5 separate regions of the Homo sapiens genome follow, and regions 1, 2, 3 and 4 are each linked to region 5. The links come from fine-mapping of genetic effects on gene expression. A gene starts in region 5. Each other region holds a variant in brackets. All regions are shown on one strand. Distances are between the middles of the regions. Region 1 overlaps ABCC4 (ATP binding cassette subfamily C member 4 (PEL blood group)). Region 2 overlaps ABCC4 (ATP binding cassette subfamily C member 4 (PEL blood group)). Region 3 has its middle 23 kb from the start of ABCC4. Region 4 overlaps ABCC4 (ATP binding cassette subfamily C member 4 (PEL blood group)). Region 5 holds the start of ABCC4 (ATP binding cassette subfamily C member 4 (PEL blood group)).

Evidence for each region.
Region 1: its variant is fine-mapped to the expression of ABCC4 in memory regulatory T cells (Schmiedel 2018, PIP 0.95).
Region 2: its variant is fine-mapped to the expression of ABCC4 in blood mononuclear cells (TOPMed, PIP above 0.99).
Region 3: its variant is fine-mapped to the expression of ABCC4 in spleen (GTEx, PIP 0.97).
Region 4: its variant is fine-mapped to the expression of ABCC4 in skeletal muscle (GTEx, PIP 0.98).

The regions. Positions count from the first base shown.
Region 1 is chr13:95,175,359-95,179,967 of GRCh38, forward strand. ABCC4 (ATP binding cassette subfamily C member 4 (PEL blood group)) reads right to left here. Exons shown (of 31, transcript NM_005845.5): 12 at 2,639-2,733; 13 at 2,349-2,435. Among named protein-coding and RNA genes, the nearest start is that of SNORD13G, 33 kb to the right of the region's middle. The variant G/C (reference allele first, on the strand shown) is at 1,907.
Region 2 is chr13:95,246,463-95,251,071 of GRCh38, forward strand. It overlaps ABCC4 (ATP binding cassette subfamily C member 4 (PEL blood group)), which reads right to left. Exons shown (of 31, transcript NM_005845.5): 2 at 1,181-1,291; 3 at 513-633. Among named protein-coding and RNA genes, the nearest start is that of SNORD13G, 38 kb to the left of the region's middle. The variant T/TA (reference allele first, on the strand shown) is at 2,044.
Region 3 is chr13:95,322,468-95,327,076 of GRCh38, forward strand. No RefSeq gene overlaps it. Among named protein-coding and RNA genes, the nearest start is that of ABCC4, 23 kb to the left of the region's middle. The variant A/G (reference allele first, on the strand shown) is at 1,976.
Region 4 is chr13:95,259,326-95,263,934 of GRCh38, forward strand. The region is part of intron 1 of ABCC4 (ATP binding cassette subfamily C member 4 (PEL blood group)); the gene reads right to left. Among named protein-coding and RNA genes, the nearest start is that of ABCC4, 40 kb to the right of the region's middle. RefSeq lists enhancers at 2,791-2,850, 2,971-3,020, 3,611-3,730. The variant C/G (reference allele first, on the strand shown) is at 2,096.
Region 5 is chr13:95,299,019-95,303,627 of GRCh38, forward strand. ABCC4 (ATP binding cassette subfamily C member 4 (PEL blood group)) reads right to left here and starts at 2,433. Exons shown (of 31, transcript NM_005845.5): 1 at 2,223-2,433. The coding sequence starts at 2,296. It overlaps LOC102724149 (a long non-coding RNA gene), which reads left to right and starts at 1,933. Exons shown (of 3, transcript XR_429273.4): 1 at 1,933-2,245; 2 at 2,928-3,308. RefSeq lists enhancers at 716-775, 2,378-3,152 and silencers at 1,969-2,608, 2,639-2,698, 2,879-2,938.

The sequences.
Region 1 (4,609 bases), 120 kb before region 5:
CTGGAGTGCAATGGCGCTATCTCGGCTCACTGCAACCTCCACCTCCTGGGTTCAAGCAATTCTCCTGCCTCAGCCTCCAGAGTAGCTGGGATTACAGGCACCCGCCACCATCCACCACTGATTTTTGTATTTTTAGTAGAGATGGGGTTTCACAACGTTGGCCAGGCTGGTCTCGAACTCCTCAGGTGATCTGCCTGCCTCGGCTTCCCAAAGTGCTGGGATTACAGGCATGGGCCACAGTGCCCGGCCAACACAGAACCTTTAGAGAAGTAATTACACTAAAATGAGGCCATGAGGGTGGGCCCTACTCTAATCTGACTGGTGTCTTTTCAGGAAGAGGAGATTTGGATACAGAGACACAAGGAGAAAAGGGTGAGAAGGCAGCCATCAGCAGGCCAAGAAAGCCCTCGGGAGGAGCTGCACCTGCAGATGCATTGATCTCACACATGCAGTCTCCAGAACTCTGCAGAAACAACCTGCCGCTGTGGAAGCCCCCCAGCCTGTGGCATTTTGTGAGGGCAGCCCTGGCTGGCCAACACAGGACTTCCAGAGCTTTCTCTCACGGTACCTTCTCTATCCCCCACCACAGGAACAGGTGCCTGCCTGCTGTCCTTCCCACAGGCCTCACTCCTTCCCGTCTGCACACCTCTGCTTCTACTATTTCTTTCAAAGGAATTGAATCCTACTCTCAGCCACCACAAACCCTTACCAGCCTGCAGGACCACAGGCTACTTCCAGCCAAGCCCGGCCCTCAGTGACCTTTCCAATCTCTGCTGCCCACTTCTTCCATTTAAAAAAAAAGATTGTCGTATGCCAGGTGTAGGGGCTCACACCTGTAATCTCAGCACTCCAGGAAGCCGAGGGCAGGGGGGGGGGGGGGGGGGGGGTGGATCCCTTGAGCCCAGGAGTTCGAGACCAGCCTGGGCAACATAGGGAGACCAGCCTAGACAACATGGCAAAGCCCCCTCTCTTCAAAAAAACACTGAATGAGCTGGGCATGGTGGTGCTAGCCTGTAGTCACAGCTACCCGGGAGGCTGAGGCAGGAGAATCTCTTGAACCCAGGAGGTCGAGGCTGCAGTGAGCTGAGAATGCACCACTGCACTCCAGCCTGGGCAACAGAGCGAGATCCTATCTAAAAAAAAAATAATAATAAAATAGATTGTCCTATATTGAAATCCCCTAAGCCTTGGGGTCTGTTGAACTTTTCCCATGCACTTAGTCTTGATCCATGCAGAGACAAATTCCTTATGGGCAAGAATGAAATCTGAACTTGTCTCTCTCTCACTCAGCCCAGCATGGGTGCTTATCTTCTCTGTGGCTGACTGCCCTCCTCTGCAAGCGAAGATGTTTCATGCAGTAGCATCTGCAGGAGCATCTACCTCAGTGTGCGCAGAAGGGTTACAATGAGTGGGAAAGGCTCACTGACTTTAACAAGGCGAAAAACAGGAAGCTGACTGTGGGGCAGATGTGAGTGCTGTTTTGGCAAAACCAGTTCACAATGCTTTCAAAAAGGCCAGTCTAGACTATGTAGGAAGTGTCAGTCGGCACACATGAGTTTATAGAATATACAGAAAAGATTCCAGAGTAGTTCTACCTCCATGGCTCAGTGTCTAAGCAAGAGCCAAAGAAAGAAAATCCCAGAAACACCACGTAAGAGTTGGGAGGGAAGCCAGATTCTAGACAACTAGTTTCAAAGGCAAGCCAGGCCTACATGCCTGTGGGTTTTAAGTGTTCACTCTGGTAAGAATCCATGAAGCAACATTAGATTCTTGAAACCACAGTCTACTATGGAGCAAATCATTCTTAAATTCTAGATTTTACTAGTAGGTTATCTCCAAACTGACAGATTAGTATGTAAAGAGCAACAAAGCCTTCCCAAGAAAGCCCTATGTTGGTCCCAAGGAC[G/C]TCACTTCTAACCTGTCATAGAGAAATGATGGAGGAAAAGAGCTGAAAGACAAGGCTCAGGTTGCCAAGTGCCACCCTTCCATTGAAAAATGGAGTACCATCTTTCCTATCTCCGGGGCCTGGTCCATCAGCAGTTTCTTGGTTATCAACTGTAATTACTAGTAGGGGAAAACTTGCAAAATTTGCCATCTGTTTCTCAACTCCCTAAAACATGATACACTCCACTCACTGCAACACACTGAAATCACTTTGTGTATTTTCCTACCTTGACCTTGTATTTCTGCAAAATTTCTCTAAAATGGATCTTCAGGGAAGCAGGGGACAGTGTGGGGAGGGGAGCGGACACCAGAGTAGGATGAGCTGAAAGCCATAAAGGCTTTCCTGAGCCAACTCGAAATGGCTCTGGAAAAGCAGAAATGACTTAAGACACAAACACACTCACAGTTCGAACAAGTGTCTGCTAACTTCCGCATCTACTGCACTGAGAGGATCGTCCAGGAGATAGATGTCAGCATCTTGATACACTGCTCTAGAAAATACAAAGAGGTATCAGACTCTCACCCAGGAACATGACAACTTTCAACAACTGGGATGTTCATTCAAATGCCAACAGAATAACCCAAGAAGGTGCTTCACACAGGACGCAATACACAGTAAGCAGGTCCTATGTGCTCACCACCACTGGAAGGTATCAAAAGACACCGGCATAGTGGCTGCTGAAATGCAACTTACCTTGCAAGGTTTACCCGTGCTTTCTGCCCTCCACTCAGCGTGGTTCCCCGATCTCCTATCACAGTCAGATCACCATCCTCCAACAGCTGTAAATCCTGTATGGACAAAGGAAAGAAGGGGGGAAAAAGAGACTTAAAACATGTTCTTCCTCTGTTCTTTGTGTTCTTCCAAAGTTATCCTAAACTTTGCACATTAGTTCTTCAGAAATTTACATGTATTTGATCAACAGCAATGGAAATATTTCATAGTAACTAAATTGTAAGTTTGAACCTATCAAATACACAGTCAGGGCACGTTATCTATTTTAATGCTGTAGCTTTTCATAGCATTTATGCACTGAGCCATTTTAACAGAAATTTTTTGAGCAGCAACTCCTTGTGAATTCAGCAGCGAAAGAGTTTCCACAGTGAGTGACCTGACAATAAAAGATTGACACAAATGTAAGAGGTGATAAGTGCTAAGAAGGAGAAGGAAGCTGGCTTAGGGAGACAGAGTGACAGAGGGAAAGTCCACTTTATATAGGGAGGTCAACAAGGGCTCTGATCGAGGGGGTCTGAGCAGAGACCTGTCAGGGGATGGACTGGCTGGCACAGAGTGCAGGAAGAGTGCTCCATAGAGGAATGAGCAAGCACAAAACCCATGGGGTGATACGTGCCCAAGGTGTTCACAGAAGAGCAATATGGATGCACACGGAACTGCGAGCACAGGATGATGGCAGGGGAGGGCAGAGACAGAGGCAAGAGAAGCCAAGGGCTCACACCCAGGGAAATAGGAGGAAGGACATGATCTGATCAAGGCAATAATTGAGACAAGAAACAACAGTAGCCGGGACCGGAGTGGGGAACAAGGAAGTGAACATCAGTGGTCATGTGCTGAACAAATTTTAAAGGTAGCACCTATAGGATCTGCTGATGAGATGGGTTTGTGTTGTGATAGAAAAAGAGGAGGACTGCATTGGTTTTGGTGTAAGACAAGGGAAGAACAGGGTTACCATTTACTGAGCTGGGGGAAATGAGGGACGCAGATTCAAGAGATAAAATCAAAAGGTTGATTATGGCCAAACTGAAATGCTGACCGGCTATCCTGACTTGCGGCTGGATAAGTGAGTCTGGAGGTCTGTGCTGGAGACCCAACCGTGAGGGCTGTCAGCATAAAGCCACGGGACTTACTAAGGAACAACTGTGTCTTCACAAGCCATTTTGCGACTTTTGCCTCAGCTTTCCATTCTCAGAGAAGGGATAACACCCGCCCCATCTTCACAGTGATGCTTAAGGCATCACAATAGACTGACAGAAAAAAAACTGCAAAGAATAAGAGCAGAAAGAGCAGCCCAGTCAGGAAAAGCCAAAGGGAAAGGAGCAGAGTGCTCATGAGACACTGCACAGACTGGTTGCACTAAGTAGACTCTGGCTCCATGCAAGACCCCAAAAAACAAAAGCTAGGAAGGAAAACAAGTTTTTATTTGAGGATCCAACCAAAGTTATATTTAAAAATTATTTAAGAAATAAGTTGACAAAGCATAATACTTTTTTTAAAAAACATGACAAGAACATCCCTGAAAATAACAGGATAATGATCAGGTTTAAGTTACAGGACATTACATTAGAAATCTTTACTTGGATGGCCTATAATTATCACTAGACAGATCCTAGCATAGACAAAAGGTGTGGAGAACATCGCTGGGTATTGACTGAGCTGCATAAGCATCAACCTAGGACACTACAGAGATAGCCCTCTTACAGATCAAGGTGTCATTTCTTTGTCTCTACTCTGACAAAGCCGGGGAGACAAAGCAAATGGCACATTGAGATCTCCATGACAAGCAAATCCTCTGACCTCCCTAAGTTCTCATTTTATCTCTTTTACAAAATATCCTGGAGAAACAAGAATTAATAAACTCATAGAATGCCGGAACAATCTAAAGTAAGGGTATGAACTCTCTAAGTGAAAAAAGGATCTGAGTTCATTATC
Region 2 (4,609 bases), 53 kb before region 5:
GAGAGGTGACAATACCTCTCCAGAAGAGCAATTATCAGATTTGGCTTGGTGAACAATTATTTGTTGAGCACCTGTAAAATGTCTTACATTATTCTGGGCTCCGATCCAAAATCACTTCCTCTAAACCACAGGGCACGCACTCCTCAAGGCTGTAGGATCCTCTTTTGACCAGGAGTGACTCTTAGCATTTAAAACATTTACCGAGCACCAACATTGTCCTACCATAGAATAAAATACTCTTCTTCCATGACACTGCATTTTAATTGGTTACAAGAAAAACAATAATGACCTTGAACTTCAGTCACTTAAGTATTCACCTGGATAAATACGCTCACTGAACTAACTACCTAATACTTCCTAGACATGTTTAATCCTTAGACCTTAAAATACCTTCAAACCCCATCTGGCCACTTCTCCCTTCTGTTCCCCCATCCATTACAGCACCAGTCAATGGCGAGCACATTTACTCTATGTGTCCTGAAAAACAATTCATGGTATGTAAAAGCTTTTACCTCAATTAACGTAAAAATTCCCAAAACTAAATAAGATTTCCAGTAACACTTTATGATTGCTCTTGTTAAAGAAGGCTTCTGTGCGTCATTCTCAGCTCTTAAAACTTCTTTATCCCAGAACCTACAATGAGGAAAAAGCTTCGTAAATAAGAGTGAACCCTGCCACAATATAAAACAGGGGAGATGGCAGAGTGACAGGTATGCATTTAAGACAGGGCATTTTGTGACGATTTCATAAATGCTACTAATTGCTCCCAGGGCTCCTGAAGGTTATGTGTGGTACAGAATCTGGAGCATCAGAAAAACAGGCCTTGAGGGGAAGTCTGGGGAAACAAGTTACTGCCAAGCTTTACTGGATTGAAGCCCCATCAGTAGCACAGATAAGCCAGACAACCTCCTCCAACCACAACACTTCCACCTAGAGGGACAGACCTCAGGCATCTCGGGCCTTTGGTGCTGGCTCCCCTGACCTCTACGGAGGCACAGGCAACAGGAGTTTCCCCCAGGCCACCATGGTAGGCTGAGCCTAGGGGCAGCCTGAGGAAGGTGACACATATTCACCTTAAGGGTAAACGGAGGCTCCAGACAGGACCCAGGAAGGCAAAACCCACTCCCCACACACAGACACCCACGCTTCCTTAATGCCCACTTTACTGCCTCCGACTTACCCTTGCAACTCCTCTCCAAGGTGCTGTGAGCGGTCTTCTGGCAGCACTGAATACATATCATCTTCCTCTAATCTCCGTTTATGGCCAATTTTAAACAAGGGATTGAGCCACCTGTTAACAAGAGAAAAGAGACATATATCCAGAATTACACATCCGTGTTTAAGTAGACTCCTACCTCCATGGGTTTTGCTTAAACTTACCTTTAAAATACATACAGCTATATATAGACAGACAGATATGAATATATAGAGCTAGAGAGAGAAAAGTTAACATGTGCACACACACACACACACACACAGTCCCTAGCTCTATCCACAGACAGGCCCCAGAAGCAATGACACACCAGTAGCTGAGAGCATGCTGGTGCCCAGATCTTGGTTTCCAAAACCATTATTATCTAAAAGGAACCAGAGCTTCCTGAAGAAATAGCTGATTCAAAGGCTGGGGCAGAAAAAGATGGCCCATGAGATACCATACGATAAGGAAACATTCAAGGAATCAAGAGGATGGGCCCAAAGAACAGAGGACCCAGCTTGACGGGGTCCCACTAGACAAGTCTGTGATAATGGAAGCATCCAAATAAATCATGACAGCAATGAATTCTAACCCACTGAATAACAAAAGAATCCACGAATCCTTACTGAGACATAAATGGGGTAAGAAGGAAAAACTCTCAGATAAAGAATGATGAGGTTAGAAAACATTTTCAATGGGAGCTAAAACCAGTCAGTGAAGGTTTGATGGGACATTTACATAATCCAAAATTATCTAGGTACAAATTATTTATTAGTTACGAAAGGACAAAATAGTAATCTTGCAGAGGACAGAAAGAACTTATTCAAATATTTTGAGATTCTTTTTAC[T/TA]AAAAAAAAAGAAAAATCAAAATGGTCATCCATTAGGAATCACTTAAATGATATTAACATTATTAATCATTAAATGATAATAATTAACATCATTAATCATTAAATGATAATAATTAACATGCACCAGGCATAGTGGCTCACACCTGTAACTCCAGAGCTTTGGGAGGCTGAGGAGGGAGAATGGCTTGAGCCCAGGAGTTTGAGACCAGCCTACACAACATAGTGAGATGCCCACTTCTACTAAAAACTTATAAAGAAAAAGGCTGGGCAGTGGCTCATGCCTGTAACCCCAGCACTTTAGGTGGCTGAGGTAGGCGGATCACTTGAGGCCAGAAGCTCGAGACCAGCCCGGCAAAACCCCATCTCTAGTAAGAAAATATAAAAATTAGCGAGGTGTGATGACACATGCCTGTAATCCCAGCTACTCGGGAAGCTGCGGCACAAGAATCACTTGAGCCTGGGAGGCAGAGGTTGCAGTGAGCTGAGATCGATGCCACTGCACTCCAGTCTGGGCAACAGAGTGAGACTATCTCAAAACAATAAAAAATATAAATAATAATTAAAATTTAGCCAGATGTACTGGTGTAAGCCTGTGATCCCAGCTATTCCAGAGGCTGAGGTGGGAGGATGGACTGAGCTCAGGAGGTCAAGGCTGCAGTGAGCTGTGATCGCCACTGCACACCAGCCTGAGCAGAACAGCAAGGCTTTGTCTAAAAAAAAAAAAAAGAAGAAGAAACATATTTGTGCCCTATAAGGAAACCTCTAATAACTTTGATAGATGCAATTACTCAATTACACAAACTTCTTTCATCTTGGCTGTCTTATCTGGCCATGTGTCACCTTTAATAGGCATGTTTTATTTTAACATGGGGATTGTCTAATCTAGGAAGCCCTTCCCATGGGGAACCCACTGCCTGGTGGCTTCTGCCTGCAGTGAAATGGTGGGCTTTCAATGCCCCGTAAGATTGGAGCACACACTGCAGGGGTATCCAAGTTATGTTCAGGATTCCGGAAACCTCCTGCTGATCCAAACTAGCAATTCTAATTAACCCAATGGCAAGAAGAACTCATCAACTCACCTCTTTCTCCTCACCTCCTCCAAAATGTGTCCAGAAGACTGTAACCTAACCAGTCCAGCTTCAACTTAGGTGGGTTTCCCAGACATGCCTGAGATGACCTCTGCATGCCCGAGACCTCCCTTCCAGCAGAACCTCATACAGTATATTTCAGCAAGGACTTCTAAGTAAAATTCACTGGTGTCTTTTTGGACTAAAGAGGTTTTTTTAATCAGGGAATAAAACTGGCTCCAGGAAGTTAAAAAATTAAGGAAAGTGAGAATGGTAACTCTGTTCCACAGGCTGAACAGTTAACTGCATAACATTTAGAAATATTAACAAGGAGGGATGCCACTGTTGAGTTAAAGTATCTGCAATCAGAAGAGACCCAAAGCTTCTATTAGAGGATGACACAAATCAGTAAGGACTTAACAAGGACCCTCCTACTCTCTCTCATTGCCCAGATCTCAAAAAGCTGGGCTGAAAAGATGTGGGTACCAGCAAGAGCTAAAGGCTTTTGCCTGATGACAAAAGTCAACTTTGACAAGAGACTAAATTATCTTTGACCATCTATGTAAGGACTTTATACATGGAAATCTAAGTCAGTTGGCTCCTTAATACCAATGTGTCCCTGAGGGGGTCTAGTCAACAATTCCAGACCACTGCCAAATGAGCCATTCCTCCACCCAGTTCTGCCCCAGTAGCCCTTCTCTCCTCAGACTTAGTCTCTTCTCCCCCTTATCTCCCACAATACTTAGTACAGCAGCATCGCTTCCCTCCTAACTGTCCTACTAGGAGTACAATGCTTTCAGGGCAATGACTACTGCCATATTATTTGGAATCCCCATTATGCCTGGTATGTGATAGATACTCAATAAACAGTTATGGAAAGAATGAATGATTGTATTATTGAATAAGACAGATGGGTAGAGTACCTTGAGCAATGATCTAGGGTAAAATTCAATACAAACTCAATATAGCATAGTCGTGCTCAATGCCCAACACAGGAAGCCATCAGCTTCAGCAATACAGAGACATTCTCCACCCCAGGATCACAACCCCCAGCATCATTTCCAGCAAGCAGGAGTCTTAGACAAGGGTTAGTAGAGAGTTTTGTTATTTATTGTTGGTGGTGGTGGCATTTAGTTTTTGTTGTTTTTTCCCCCAAGGATTTGAGAAGTTCTGAATACTGGTTTCTTTTTTTTTTTTTTTTTTTTTTTTTGAGATGGAGTCTCACTCTGTTGCCCAGGCTGGATGGAGTACAGTGGAGCGATCAGAGCTCACTCAGATCCGATCAGAGCTCAGCAGTCTCAAACTTCTGAATTCAAGCAATCCTCCCACCTCTACCTCCCAAGTAGCTAGGAGTACAGGCACATGCCACTGTGCCTGGCTAATATTTTTATTTTTGATAGAGACCAGGTCTCTCTATGTTGCCCAGGCTGGTATCGAACTCCTGGGCTCAAGTGATCCTCCCACTTTGGCCTCCCAAAATTCTGGGATTACAGGCATGA
Region 3 (4,609 bases), 23 kb after region 5:
TTAACAATTTATCTCTGAATATGTTCTCCTTAATTCCTTATCTTGCCATCTTTGCTGCTTTTTTATTTTTTTTTTTTTTTTGAGACGGAGTCTCGCTCTGTTGCCCAGGCTGGAGTGCAGTCTTGGCTAACTGCAACCTCCGCCTCCCAAGTTCAAGCGATTCTCTTGTGTCAGCCACCTGAGTAGCTGGGACTACAGGCATGCACCACCATGCCTGGCTAATTTTTGTATTTGTAGTAGAGACGGGGTCTCACCATGTTGGCCAGGTTGGTCTCAAAACTCCTGTCCTCAGGTGATCCACCCCCTTCAGCCTCCCAAAGTGCTGGGATTACAGGCGTAAGCCACCATGCCTGGCCAAGGTCTGGCTTTTCTTTATCAACCAATATGAAAATTTCTGTTTCTTATTTGATAAGCTTAGTCACTTTTAACTTAATAAATTATAATTTGGACTTATTTCAACCCTGTTATATCAACCTTCCTATTTATCCTGATTGTACCATGCCATTTAAGAGGAAAAAGGACAAAATTAAATATATAATATGGGTATATATTTTCTTTCTTTTTTTTTTTTGTTTTTTGGGATGGAGTCTGGCTCTGTCACCCAGGCTGGAGTGCAGTGGCGTGATCTCGGCTCACTGCAAGCTCTGCTTCCCGGGTTCACGCCATTCTCCTGCCTCAGCCTCCCCAGTAGCTGGAACTACAGGCACCCGCCACCACACCCAGCTAATTTTTTGTATTTTTAGTAAAGACAGGGTTTCACCGTGTTAGCCAGATGGTCTTGATCCCCTGACCTCGTGATCTGCCCGCCTCGGCCTCCCAAAGTGCTGGGATTACAGGCGTGAGCCACTGCACCCAGCCAGGGTATATATTTTCTACACTTCTAGGTAAAAATGAACAATATTGTGGAAAAGAGACCAGAAAAAACACACCCAAGTATTAATGATCTAGTGGTTTTTCTTCAAGAAATAGAATTATGGGTCATTTCTTCTTCTTTCTATTTTTTAATATTTTTCTAAGTTGTCCATGATGAACATACATACATATATATGTCACCCAGGCTGGAGTGCAGTGGTGCAATCTCAGCTCACTGCAACCTCCGCCTCTGGGTTTAAGCAATTTTCTGCCTCAGCCTCCCGGTAGCTGGGATTACAGGTGCCTGCCACCACGCCCAGCTAATTTTTGTATTTTTAGTAGAGATGGGGTTTCACCATCTTAGCCAGGCTGGTCTTGAACTCCTGACCTCATGATCCACCCGCCTCAGCCTCCCAAAGTGCGGGGATTACAGATGTGATCCACCGCGCCCGGCCAATGAACTTATATATTTTTCTTTTGAGACAGAGTTTCGATCTTGTTGCCCAGGCTAGAGTGCAATGGTGCGATCTCAGCTCACTGCAACCTCCACCTCCAGGGTTCAAGTGATTCTCCTGCTTTAGCCTCCTGAGGAGCTGGGATTACAGGCATGTGCCACCACGCTCGGCTAATTTTGTAGTTTTAGTAGAGACTGGGTTTTCCATGTTGCTCAGGCTGGTCTCGAACTCCCGACCTCAGGTGATCCACCCGCTTTGGCATCCCAAAGTGCTGAGATTACAGGCGTGAGCCACCGCGCCTGGCCTGATGAACATACATTTTTAAACAAACAAACAAAAAACTCATGAGCCAGCAAATTAAAATAAATGTTATTGAAGTAGTAGAAGTGACGAAGATGGTAATGAGCCCACATCTTTCTAATGCCCAGCCTTCCCTTCGTACTGCCCGAGGACCACTTGGACTTCATCCAGAGGGAGTACTCACTCACCAAGCCTTACCCTGAGCTTTCCTTTCATATCCAACAAATGGCAGAGTCCTCACCTGGCCCTGGCAACTCCTCAGGGCGTGGGAGAAAAGCTGCGGCTCAGGGCTCAGTGTGGCCGACCGAACACTCAGGGCCTTATCCTGCCATTGAGCCTCTCAATGATATCAGCAGGATGTGGCCCGA[A/G]GGTTTTTCCTCCCCTGGTTTCCCCAAACAGAAAATGCTGGCCTTTGTTTAGACAGTACTTTGATGGATTGTGGATAGGACCATTTTAAAACTTTATCTAAATTAGATGAAAATGTCCTACAGCCACTTCAAATTTAATTTGTGGAGGTAATGCTTGTTCACTCTTGGTTCCTAGCCTGGAAGCCATTTGGACCTTTTGAAGTGCTTAGCCTGGATTTAATTTTGAAGTACATTTTATTTTTCGTAAATTCTTGTTGCTGTTTCTAATGCCTTAGTAATGTGGGTCTGTATCTTTGCTTAGGAGTTTTGTCTTTCTATATAGTACAGTAATTCCCTAACTTTTAAAATCTAGCTACTTTGTAAAAAACACAAAATCTCACACATTTTTCAAGTGAATTAAACACAGGACCTAAAAAACAAACCTTTGTGTTGCAAAGGGAAGCAACACAGCTTTACTGGATACAGAGCTCCACACAGGGCTGTTTTAAAATCTTTGTAAAGTCTGGACAGGACCAGCTACGTAATTTGTAGGGCCTAGAGCAAAATAACAATGTGTGGCATGGCCAGGTGTGGTGGCTCACACTTGTAATCCCAGCACTTTGGGATGCCAAGGTGGGTGGATCACCCGAGGTCAGGAGTTTGAGACCAGCCTGACCAATATGGTGAAGCCCAGTCTCTACTAAAAATACAAAAATTAGCCCGGCATGGTGGTGGATGCCTGTAGTCCTAGCTACTCAGGAGGCTGAGACAGGAGAATTGCTTGAACCCGGAAGGCGTTGGTTGCAGTGAGTTGAGATCACATCACTGTACTCCAGCGTGGGTGACAGAGTGAGACTCCATATCAAAAAAAAAAAAAAAGAATGTGTGGCTCATTGTTCAAAAATTACGAAGACTTCCAAGGCTGGTGTGGTGGTACATGCCTGTAGTTTCTGCTACTCTGGAGGCTGAGATGGGAGGGTCACTTGGACCAAGTAAGTAGAGGCTGCACTGAGCTACATGGTCACACTGTACTCCAGCCTGGGCAACAAAATGGGACCCTGTCTTGAAAGAAAGACAGAAAGACAGACAGAAAGAGAGAAGGAAGGAAGGGGAGGGGAGGGGGACGGGAAGGGAAGGGGGAAAGGGGAAAGGGAAAGGGGGAAGGGGGAAGGGAAGGGAAGGGAAGGGAGAAGGAAGGAGGAAGGAAGGAAGAAAGACTTCCAAGATGAGAGCAGAGCATTAAACCAGTCTCGGGGCCCTTATGAACTTGTGACCTCGTGCTAAATGCACAGGTCAGTTGCCTGCAAAGCTGGCCCTGGCTCTGGATACTTTCAGTGGGTCCCACTGCATGTTATATCACATGTCATAATCATTTACATCCTACACATGTTTTTTATTAGAACAATTTTCTTTTTTCTTTTCTTTTCTTTCTCTTTCTTTCTCTCTTTTTTTTCTCTCTCTCTCTTTCCCTCCCTCCCTCCCTCTCCTCCCCTCCCCTCTCCTTTCCTTTCATTTCCTTTCCTTTGTTTCCTTTCTTTTTTTCTTTTGAAACAGAGTCTTGCTCTGTCACCCAGTCTGGAGTGCAGTGGCCTGATCTTGGCTCTCTGCAACCTCTGCCTCCCGGGCTCAAGCAATTCTCCTGCCTCAGTCTCCTGAGGAGCTGGGATCACAGGCGCCCGACAACACACCTGGCTAATTTTTGTATTTTTAGTAAAGATGGGGTTTCACCATGTTGGCCAGGCTGGTCTCCAACTCCTGACCTCAAGTAATCCACCTGCCTCGGCCTCCCAAAGTGCTGGGATTACAGGCGAGAGCCATCATGCCTAGCCTACAACCATTTTCTCTTTTTTTTTTTTTTTGAGACAGAGTCTGGCTCTATTGCCCAGGCTGAAGTGCAGTGGAGCGATCTCAGCTCACTGCAACCTCCGCCTCCTGGGTTCAAGCGATTCTTCTGCCTCAGCCTCCCAAGTAGCTGGAATTACAGGCACGCAGCACCATGCCCGGGTAATTTTTTGTATTTTTAGTAGAGACAGGGTTCCACCATGTTGGCCAGGCTGGTCTCCAACTCCTGATCTCAAGTAATCCACCCGCCTTGACCTTGAAAAGCGCTGGGATTACAGGCATGGGCCACCGTGCCAGGCATACAGACATTTTCAAAGAGATTTTGCTTTTGAAATTATGTGGCTACAAGTAACTCATGTTATGATTGGCTCTGATTGCTCTACAAATAGTGTATATGTTTAAGAATTTTTGTGCAGTGAGAAAATCAGAACTTTCAAATTGCTTTCCAAGGAATCAATACATTTATGACTATTAAAATTGGCAATAGATGAAAGTGTCATTGGTGATGTCCTATGAATACTTAACCACACATTATAAATCAATATTGTAGTGAGACAGCCAAGTATCATGGGGGAAGGTGCCTGGAAAACCTCCGCCCAGCCGGTACACTGGGAGAATGGGGTGGAGTGGCGGGAAGTTCATGCCCTTTGCAGCAGAGAGGAGCCTGGCCTTTCTCTCCTGTTCCTGAGGTGTGGTACCCGAGAATTCAGTCTGTATGAGGTGGGGCCAGTTGACAGGAAACTCTCTCGCTCTTCTAAGATTTTTTTTTTTCCTTTTTGCCTAATAAATTCCACTTTTCTCACCCTTCAAAGT
Region 4 (4,609 bases), 40 kb before region 5:
GCTGAGATCACGCCATTGTACTCCAGCCTGGGCAACAAGAGTGAAACTCCGTCTCAAAAAAAAAAAAAAGGAAGAAAAAAAGAAACGCCTTCCCCTAAGGCAAGGTTTCTCAGCCTCAGCACTACTGGCATTTGGAGCTGAAAAACTCTTTGTTGGGGGTGTCGTCCCGTGCACTGTAGGATGGTTAACAGCATCCCTGAACCCCACCCTCAAGAAGCCAACAGCATCCCCATCCCAAGTCCTGACAACTAAAATTATCTGAGGCATTGCCAGGGTGGCAAAATCACATGGATCAGAACCACCGCACTAAAGTTTTTTACAGCCTTTCTGGACAGGCTATAGAATCTTAAATCAAATGTTGACCTCAGACAGAAGTTGCAAGACAATGACAGCAGTCTTTTAGCCACGTTAGCAAATGATATAAACCCATTAGTAAATCCACCGGTTCAATTCCACTCCAAGAGTTCAAGGCATCTATGTTAACAAAGAATTACAGTAAGATGGGACATGTTACATCTGTGTAGTGTGGGGAAAAAAAAAAAAAAAAGATGGGACACATGTGGACACAGGCTATGCACAGACTCTACTTCTGGGCTTTCTAAGGGATCAACATCCCAGCTCACGAGACTCATCTTCTGTACAGCAGAGTTTCTCAAAGTGTGATCTCTGGACCAGCAGCACCAGAATCCCCTGAAGAGTTAGAAATGCAAATTCTCAGGACCCACTCCAGGTCTATGAATCAGGAACTCTGAGAGTGGGGCCCTGCAATCTGTATCTTCTGATGTTCTCCAGGTGATGCGGATGCAGGTTCAGGTTTGAGAACGTGCCATACAGCTTGCTTTGACACACCAAATGGGAAGCACTTGTCTGACATATACGCCAATACTCCCAACCCAACCCTGGCTCATTAGCAAAATCCCTACCTCAGCCTGGGGAGTTTTACTGGGGAGTTTCTTGTTTTGTTTTTCGGTAAACTTCAATATGTTACCCAATTATGCCTGGGGAATTTTAAAACAAAAACCCACAGACACCTAGAACCGCAACCTAAATGACTGAATCAGAACAAGCCAAGATGAAACCCAAGTGGCGGTCCTTAAAAAGCTCCCCTCACCCAGCACATCCTGGTTATCAGCCAGGTCTGGGAACCATCTGTACGGTAGAGAGAAGAAAGAGGGTATAGTCAGGTACCTGGGAAGTTGGAGAGGGTTTGGAGAAAGGGACACAGTTTGAGCAAACTTTAGGAAAAGAATTTGGAGTTTACCAAGAAGACAAAGGAGGAAGAAGGGACAAATTTTCCAGAAAAATGGAGCCACACAGCCAAGACTTATTGCTTGGAGACAGCAGAGAAAATGCTGCATGGGGTCTGGGGTGATAATGGGGTAATCAAAGGTCTTGTGTTCTAAACTCAGAAAGTTGGACTTTATCCTAAAGATAACAGGGAAATTGTGAATGTTTTTAAGCTACTTTGTATATGATGAACTGTGGAAGGCAAGGAAATCAGTCAGGAATTGGATTTGAAAGAAACTTCACCAATACAGTGACTTGCATCCTTTTATTCAAGCAAACTAGATCCCTTCACCCTCCCAATATCCCCAGTCTGCACAATTCTCACCTCCCCTGCTTGGTCGTAACTCTGTGACTCTACCACAAAAATAAGCAGATGCACAAGAAGTCAGTTTAAAATTCCACATCCTATTTCTCATTTACTCTAGGATCTCAAAACAAGAAAAACATCGCAACCCAAGTCATCTTTTCAAAAACAATTTTGTAAATGTCCTATTTCATAGAAAAGGAAGAAGCAACTCTAAATCAAATTTTTTACTCTGAAATTACCTAGAATTCCCAGGCCCAGTGGCTCACGCCTGTAATCCCAGCACTTTGGGAGGCCGAGGTGGGCAAATCACCTGAGGTCAAGAGTTCAAGACCAGCCTTGACCAAAATAGCGAAACCCCGTCTCTACTAAAAATACAAAAATTAGCTGGGCGTGGTGGTGCGTGCCTGTAATCCCAGCTACTCAGGAAGCTAAGGCGGAAGAATCACTTGAACCCAAGAGGCAGATGTTGCAGTGAGCCAAAATCACACCACTGCAACTCCA[C/G]CCTGGGCGACAGAGCAAGACTCCCTATCAAAAAAAAGAAATTACCTAGAACTAGCATAGCAGTAACATAAAAAGCTGTATCTATGAGCAGCTCTTCTTATCCACAAAACATATCTTAAATTCATTGTCATTAAAACAAGATATTAGAAAGGAATGGCTTATCCATTTACTAGTATTAATGGTGACATGGCTATTGAAGAAGAAAAAAACACAAAAAAAAGTAATAAACCTTATATACAGAGTTTTACACAATTAGAACTCCAATCCTACATTGACTGAAGACAGTAAGCTAGCACATTAGAGGTGCAAGATGTACAATACCAATAAACAGTCAAAAATCTACTGCATTACTATATTCTAATGATACTGAAAACGTTAATAAGAAATTAACTTCAAGCCAGGCATGGTGGCTCATGCCTATAATACCAGCGCTTTGGGAGGCTGAGGCAGGGGGATCTCTTGAGCCCAAATGTTCGAGACCAGCCTGGGCAACATAGTGAGACCTTCTCTCCACACAAAAAAAAAAAAATTTAATTGGCTGGGCACAGTGGCACACACCTGTAGTCCTAGCCACTCTGGAGGCTGAGGTAGGAGGAATGCTTGAGCCCAGGGGCTTGAGGTTACAGTGAACAATGATCAAAAGTATCCACTAGGTTGGGAGGCCAGCCTAGGGCAACATGCCTGGGGGGCAGCTCTCAGCAAGTTCACAAGCAGCAGCCTGGGAGCACAGCCCTGGGGCCCCGCACACCAGGTCCCAGGAACACTCTCTGCAAGGAGATGGCCCACGTGGCTGGGGCCCTGGTGACAAACAAGAGGACTGAGCAAAGAAGTCAACGTGTTGAGGACAGCAGGAGTCAAGTTTCTCACTACTGAAGGATGAAGATACAAATATGGAAAGAGGGAGAACCAGAACAAAGCATGAGATTTTTGAACTGTGATTTGAAGCACTGGTGTGAAGTCTATCTAATTTGTTTCCTAATACAGATCTATATAAATAGATACCTAAATAAAGATAGAGAAATCAATATACACTGATCCTCTTTAGTGACAAATCCTGTATTTGTGAGTTTGCCTACTTGCTAAATTGTAACCCCAAAAATCAGTCCTCCAGGTGTCTTGCAGTCCTTCACGGACATGCACAGAGTAGCAAAATATTTGAGTCACCCAACATGCATGCTCCCAGCTGAAGTCAAACGAAATGACACTTAGACTTTTTTTTTTTTTTTTCCCAAGACGGAGTCTCACTCTGTTGCCCAGGCTGGAGTGCTGTGGTGCGATCTCGGCTCACCACAACCTCCGCTTCCTGGGTTCAAGCGATTCTCCTGCTTCAGCCTCCTGAGTAGCTGGGATTACAGGCACACGCCACCATGCCCGGCTAATTTTTTTGTATTTTTAGTAGAGACGAGGTTTCACCATGTTGGCCAGGCTGGTCTCGAACTGCTGACCTCAAGCAATCCAGCCACCTTGGCCTCCCAAAGTGCTGGATTTACAGGTGTGAGCTACCACGCCCAGCTGACACTCTGCCTTCTTATTCCCGCTCTTAGAGTAGAAACAACTGTCCTTCTTGTGGGCTGTTCAGTACCATGTTCTTCACATTTTGGGGACTTTTGTGGGTGACTTCGCTGTCTAAAGTGGCCCCAAGCATCATGCTCAAGTGCAGTCTAGTGCATCAAAGCGCAAGGCGGGTGTAATGTGCCCTACAGAAAAAAACGTGTGTTACAGAAGCTTCCTTCAGGCATGAACTATAGTGCTGCTGGCTGTTAATTCAAGGTTAATGATTAATTATATATTAAAAAAGGTGTCTCTAAGCAGACACATGCATAAAACAAGGTTATATATTAAATGGCTGACAAAAATGTGACCAAAGGCGCATAGGAACCTAACCCTGTATTTCGCCTGGAAGCAATGGTTCAGTATTCACTAGTCCTGTGTTTGTGGAGACTTTATAGAGCTCCACTAGTAACAAGAACCAACTGTATATGTATATGTGTGTGTATATATATACACATACACACAAATATATAAATAATATGTGTTGATCTGTGTATGCAAATACATTCTAGCTTTGTCCGCTTAGAGTTCCTAGAAGCAATGAGATCCCATAACAATAAATATGCCTAGGCCGGGCACAGTGGCTCACGCCTGTAATCCCAACACTTTGGGAGGCCAAGGTGGGTGAATCACCTGAGGTCAGGAGTTCAAGACCAGCCTGGCCAACATGGTGAAACCCCGTCTCTACTAAAAATACAAAAATTAGCCCAGCATGGTGGCATGCACCTGTAATCCTAGCTACTTGTGAGACTGAGGCAGGAGAATCACTTGAACCCAGGAAGCAGAGGTTACAGTGAGCCGAGATCGTGCCACTGTACTTCAGCCTGGGTAACAGAGACTCTGTCTCAAAAAAGAAAAAAAAAAAATGCATAGTACCCAGCACTCTTTCTAAATATAGTATCCACTTATGAAAAAGAATATGTAACTTTTCTTTTTAATGCAGAGGCTCTTTTGAGAAATGGC
Region 5 (4,609 bases):
GAAGCGGGAGGAACACTTGAGCCCAGGAGTTCAAGACCAGCCTGAGCAACAACATAGAGAGCCCTATCTCTACAAAAAAAATTTTTTTTTATTATCCGGGCATGGTGACACACACCTGGAGCCCCAGCTACTCGGGAGGCTGAGGCAGGAGGATTGCTTCGGCCCAGGAGTTGGAGGCTGCAGCAAGCTATGAATGTGTCACTGCCCTCCAGCCTGGGTCACAGCTTGCACAAAGCAAGATCCTGTCTCAAAAAAAAAAAAAAAAAGTTCCTTGCCCTGCCTGAAGTTGAGGAGACCATTTGTCTACCTCAAGTTATTATTTGCAGAAACCACACCCATATTCCTTCCTCCTCCACGTGCCCCTCTCCTTAAGAGAAAGGCCGCCAAACAACCAAGAGAAGTTCCTACACCCACTGAGTGTACCACAATCGAAACAAGAGTAAGCGACTCATCCTCTTGGAATCCCCTAGGTCAAGCTTGTCCAACCTGAGGCCCATGGGCTGCCAAATTCGTAAGCTTTCTTAAAACATCAGATTTTTTTTTGCGATTTTTTTTTAGCTCATCAGCTATCATTAGTGTTAGTGTATGATTAGTGTTAGTGTATTTTATGTATGGCCCAAGACAATTCTTCCAGTGTGGCCCAGGGAACCCAAAAAATTGGAGACCCCCACCCTAGGTTGTCCCATAATAAAAGGCAATATCAACATGTGGGAAAGATGAGGCGGCAGAGGTCAAGAAACAGAAGATCTAATAATCATCCAAGTGAGATTGAAGCCCTTCAAAGGTTCAGGCTTATGTAGTTAGCAGACGGAATTCCCCCACACACACCCGCCACTCCCCCAAGACGGAGTCTCACTCTGTCACCCAGGCTGGAGTACAGTGGGGCGATCTCAGCTCACTGCAACCTCCGCCTACTGGGTTCAAGCAATTCCCCTGCCTCAGCCTCCTGAGTAGCTGGGATTACAGGCGTGCTCCACCACACCCGGCTAATTTTTGTATTTTTAGTAGAGACGGGGTTTCACCATGTCAGCCAGGCTGGTCTCGAACTCCTGACCTCGTGATCCACCCACCTCTGCCTCCCAAAGTGCAGGGATACAGGCGTGAGCCACCGCGCCAGGCCAAGATGGAAATTTTAGTTACTACTGTCACCCGAGTCTTTCTCCGTTTGTTTCCTTGCACAAAATGGGTAGGGCTGTGGGCCCTCCCAGCTCAGGAGCCCTGGGGTGGTTTTAAGAAGGTAGAACTCCTGGTAGGAACCACCTGCATCAAGACCATGGATCACCTCTCTGAAGGTTAGCGATTCCAGGGACCCCACCTCCGAGCTGTCCTCCTACGTGGAAGTGAAAGTATTGGAAACAGGGGAAAGAAGCTGGTCAAAGACAGACTCCAGTCGTGGCGGTGCATGTCCCAGTTAAAAGCAAATCCTGGAAAATCTTGTTCAAGAACAGGGTCCCCATTCATAAATGAAAAATAATAATAGTGTTATTTTACCCACATGAAACTTGCCATAACTAGGTACCACGACCCACATGGACACACAGTGAGATTCCCACAAAGAGGCAAAAGGAGAGCCCTGGTCACTGAGACAAAAGATACAGAGACACCGGGACACAGAGAGGTACAACGGGACGTGGAGTTGGATCGAGCTGTCTCGTAAGGAATATCGGAAGGGGTGGGGACACTACTGGGAGATGGCATAGGTCCAGGACACTAATTAGGCTTTGGCTGAGATCAGATAAAGGAAACTGTTCGTAAGCTGCTTACTTAAAAAGAAAGGAAAAGGTGCGTTTGAGTTCAGGAGACTGCGAGTCCCAGAGCAGGAGGCGGGAGCCAGCGAAGGGTGGGCGTGTAAGGGGTGCAGTCGCTTCTCCCGCTGGGCAAGAGACTCCCCCTTTCGGCAGCCTGGGTTCCCCGCCTCCCCACCTCCTGCTCCTCCTCCCCCGAGCCCTAAGGGCCCGCAGGGCCTCCAGTAGCAAAGCCACTGGCCCCGCGTCCCCGCGTCCCCCTGCGCCGCGCCCCGGGGCGCAGGCAGGGACCACGCGGCCGGCGTGGGGGCGGCGCCACCCGCAGCAGAAAGCCCCGGCGTGGACCGCGTGGCGTAGGAAAGCGCTCCCCTCGCCCCCAGCCGCAGAGGGCTTGGGCAGCATCGGGCGCGGCCCCGGGAGAGTGCGTCCGCGGCGCCAGCGGCTGCAGGGTGACCTGTTTCGGGCGGGGACACTCACCAGAAGAACACGCGTGAGCAGAGGTTCGCGTCCTGCAGCGGGTTGGGCTTCACCTCCTGGTACACGGGCAGCATCTTGCCGGGCGGGGCGGGCGCGGGCCGGGGTCGCGCTGATCAGGCGGCGGTGGCCGCGGGCTCCGCTCCTGGACCTCAAGCAGGGATGCTGGGGCTCCGGCCGCCACGCCTGTCCGCTCGGCTGGAGCCTGTGAAGCAGCCGCTTCCGGGAGCCGGGCGCCGGCGGCACGCCCCGTCCCCGCCTCTCAGGCCCGCCGCCTCGGGGGCGCCCGCTACGCGCCGCCGCCTGGAGCCCGGGAGCTGCGCACCGCGTGCGAGCGCGGCCGGGACCGACGGGTGACGCGGCGGGAGGAGACGCGGCGGGAGGAGGCGAAGCTGGCGACGCCAAAGGGAGCCCAGAGCTACGCCCAGGGGTGAGGCGAGGGCCGCCTGCGCCGCTGGATGGAGAGGGTAGCAGAGCGCGCGGCAAGGAGGCCGGGTCCGGAGGTGCCCACGTGCACGAACCCGAGTGAAACTTTCCGAAATTCACTATCCGAGTCTAGGCGCCGACACAGAAGGTGGAGCAGGGAGGCGTCGGCTGTGCCCGCCCCTGCGCCGCAGAAACGCCCCCTCGGCTACGGGTTTGGGAAGACTGGGAGACAGCTGCCTCGTGCTCTAGCAGCCCGCCCCCTGGGCGCCTTTCCCTTCTCAGGACCAAACGACGGTGCCATGGGAGGCTCTTCAACCTGTGAGCCAAACATTTGACCTTGGACGACAGCAAAGTTTAGCCACAGATTATCCTTGTAGAGCTGCAAGACCTCAAGAAAGCCGGGTAACTCGAGAGTATGACCCAGATGAATTCGGGAGATGGATGAATGCTGTCGTCGATGGGGGCGGGCTTTAGGCATCTCACATGTTGCATGCTACGGTGGACCTCTGAGCTTTTTGCTGCCCCCTTAGATTGGGAAAGGAATATAAGAGGAAAGAGAGACTGCCTGATGATTTCTGTCGTCAAGCCCTAAAGCCTAACAGATAACAGTGGCAAACGACACGTGGGTTCCAGAATACCAGTGATGTTCATGTGCATTTCTGAGTGCGTAGCCTCACTAGTGTGTGTGTGTGTGTGTGTGTGTGGCAGTCTCACACACAGTGTCACGATTATGGCTCATTGCACCCTCGACCTCCCAGGGCTCAAGCAATCCTCCCAACTCAGTTTAAGTAGCTAGGACTACAGGCACCCGCCACCACACCCGGCTCATATTTTGTAATTTTTGTAGAGATGCAAAAATCAAAATCAAAGGCTCCAAGTTCAAATACTGATAATTTTTGAAGCCAAATGATTGTCATGGAGGTTTATTTTCTTCATATTTCATGCATGTTTGAGAATTTGGTTTTCTTTGTAATAAGATCATTTTATTGTTCCTTGATAATTTCTCACTTTGTTGCCCAGGCTGGTCTCAAACTCCTAGGCTCAAGTGATCCTCCCACCGTGGCCTCCCAAAGTGCTAGGATTACAGGCATGTACCACCACGCCCGACCAATTATCTCACTTTTAATTCTATCAGTGCCCCATTCAAGGTTATCCTTACTTTATAGATGAGGAAGGTGAAGCTGAAAGGCAGAACTTGTCCAGTCTTAGAGCCAAGAAAGGATAAAACATGATTTGCAATAAGCCTATGTCTAAGCATGGCCTGTCTCCCTGGTGGATGGCCAGTGTGCATGAGAAGTGCCCAGAATATGCTGGTTGAATGGCTGTAGGAATGAATGAACAAAATCTTGTTCCAAGCTTGTGTACTCCCACCTCTAAGTCTTCAGTCATTTCTGTGGCTACCTTAACAAGGTCAGCAGCTGCTCTTCATATCCACCCTGAATGAAAAAAAATGAAAGGCTCCAAGTTCATGGTGCTTGGAACAAGATCATTTTATTGTTCCTTGATAATTTCCCATGTATATTTGCTAAAATAGTATAGTTAATAGCTTTTAAAGAAAGCCTTACACAAACACATATTTAAAAGTCAAGCACAGGCTAGCCAGCATAGTGAGGCTCTGTCTCTACCAAAAGTTTTAAAAATTAGCCCAGGTGTGGTGGCGTACCCTTGTAGTCCCAGCTACTCGAGAGGCTGAGACAGGAGGATGGCTTTAGCCCAGGAGTTCCAGGCTACAAGGAGTTAAGAAGGTGCCCACTGGGCTGGGCACAATGGCTCACGCCTATAATCCTAGCACTCTGGGAGGCTGAGGCAGGTGAATCACCTGACGTCAGGAGTTCGAGACCAGCCTGGCCAACATGGTGAAACCCCATCTCTACTAAAAATACAAAAAATTATCTGGGTGTGGTGGTGGATGCCTGTAATCCCAGCTACTCAGGAACCTCAGGCAGAAGAATCACTTGAACCCA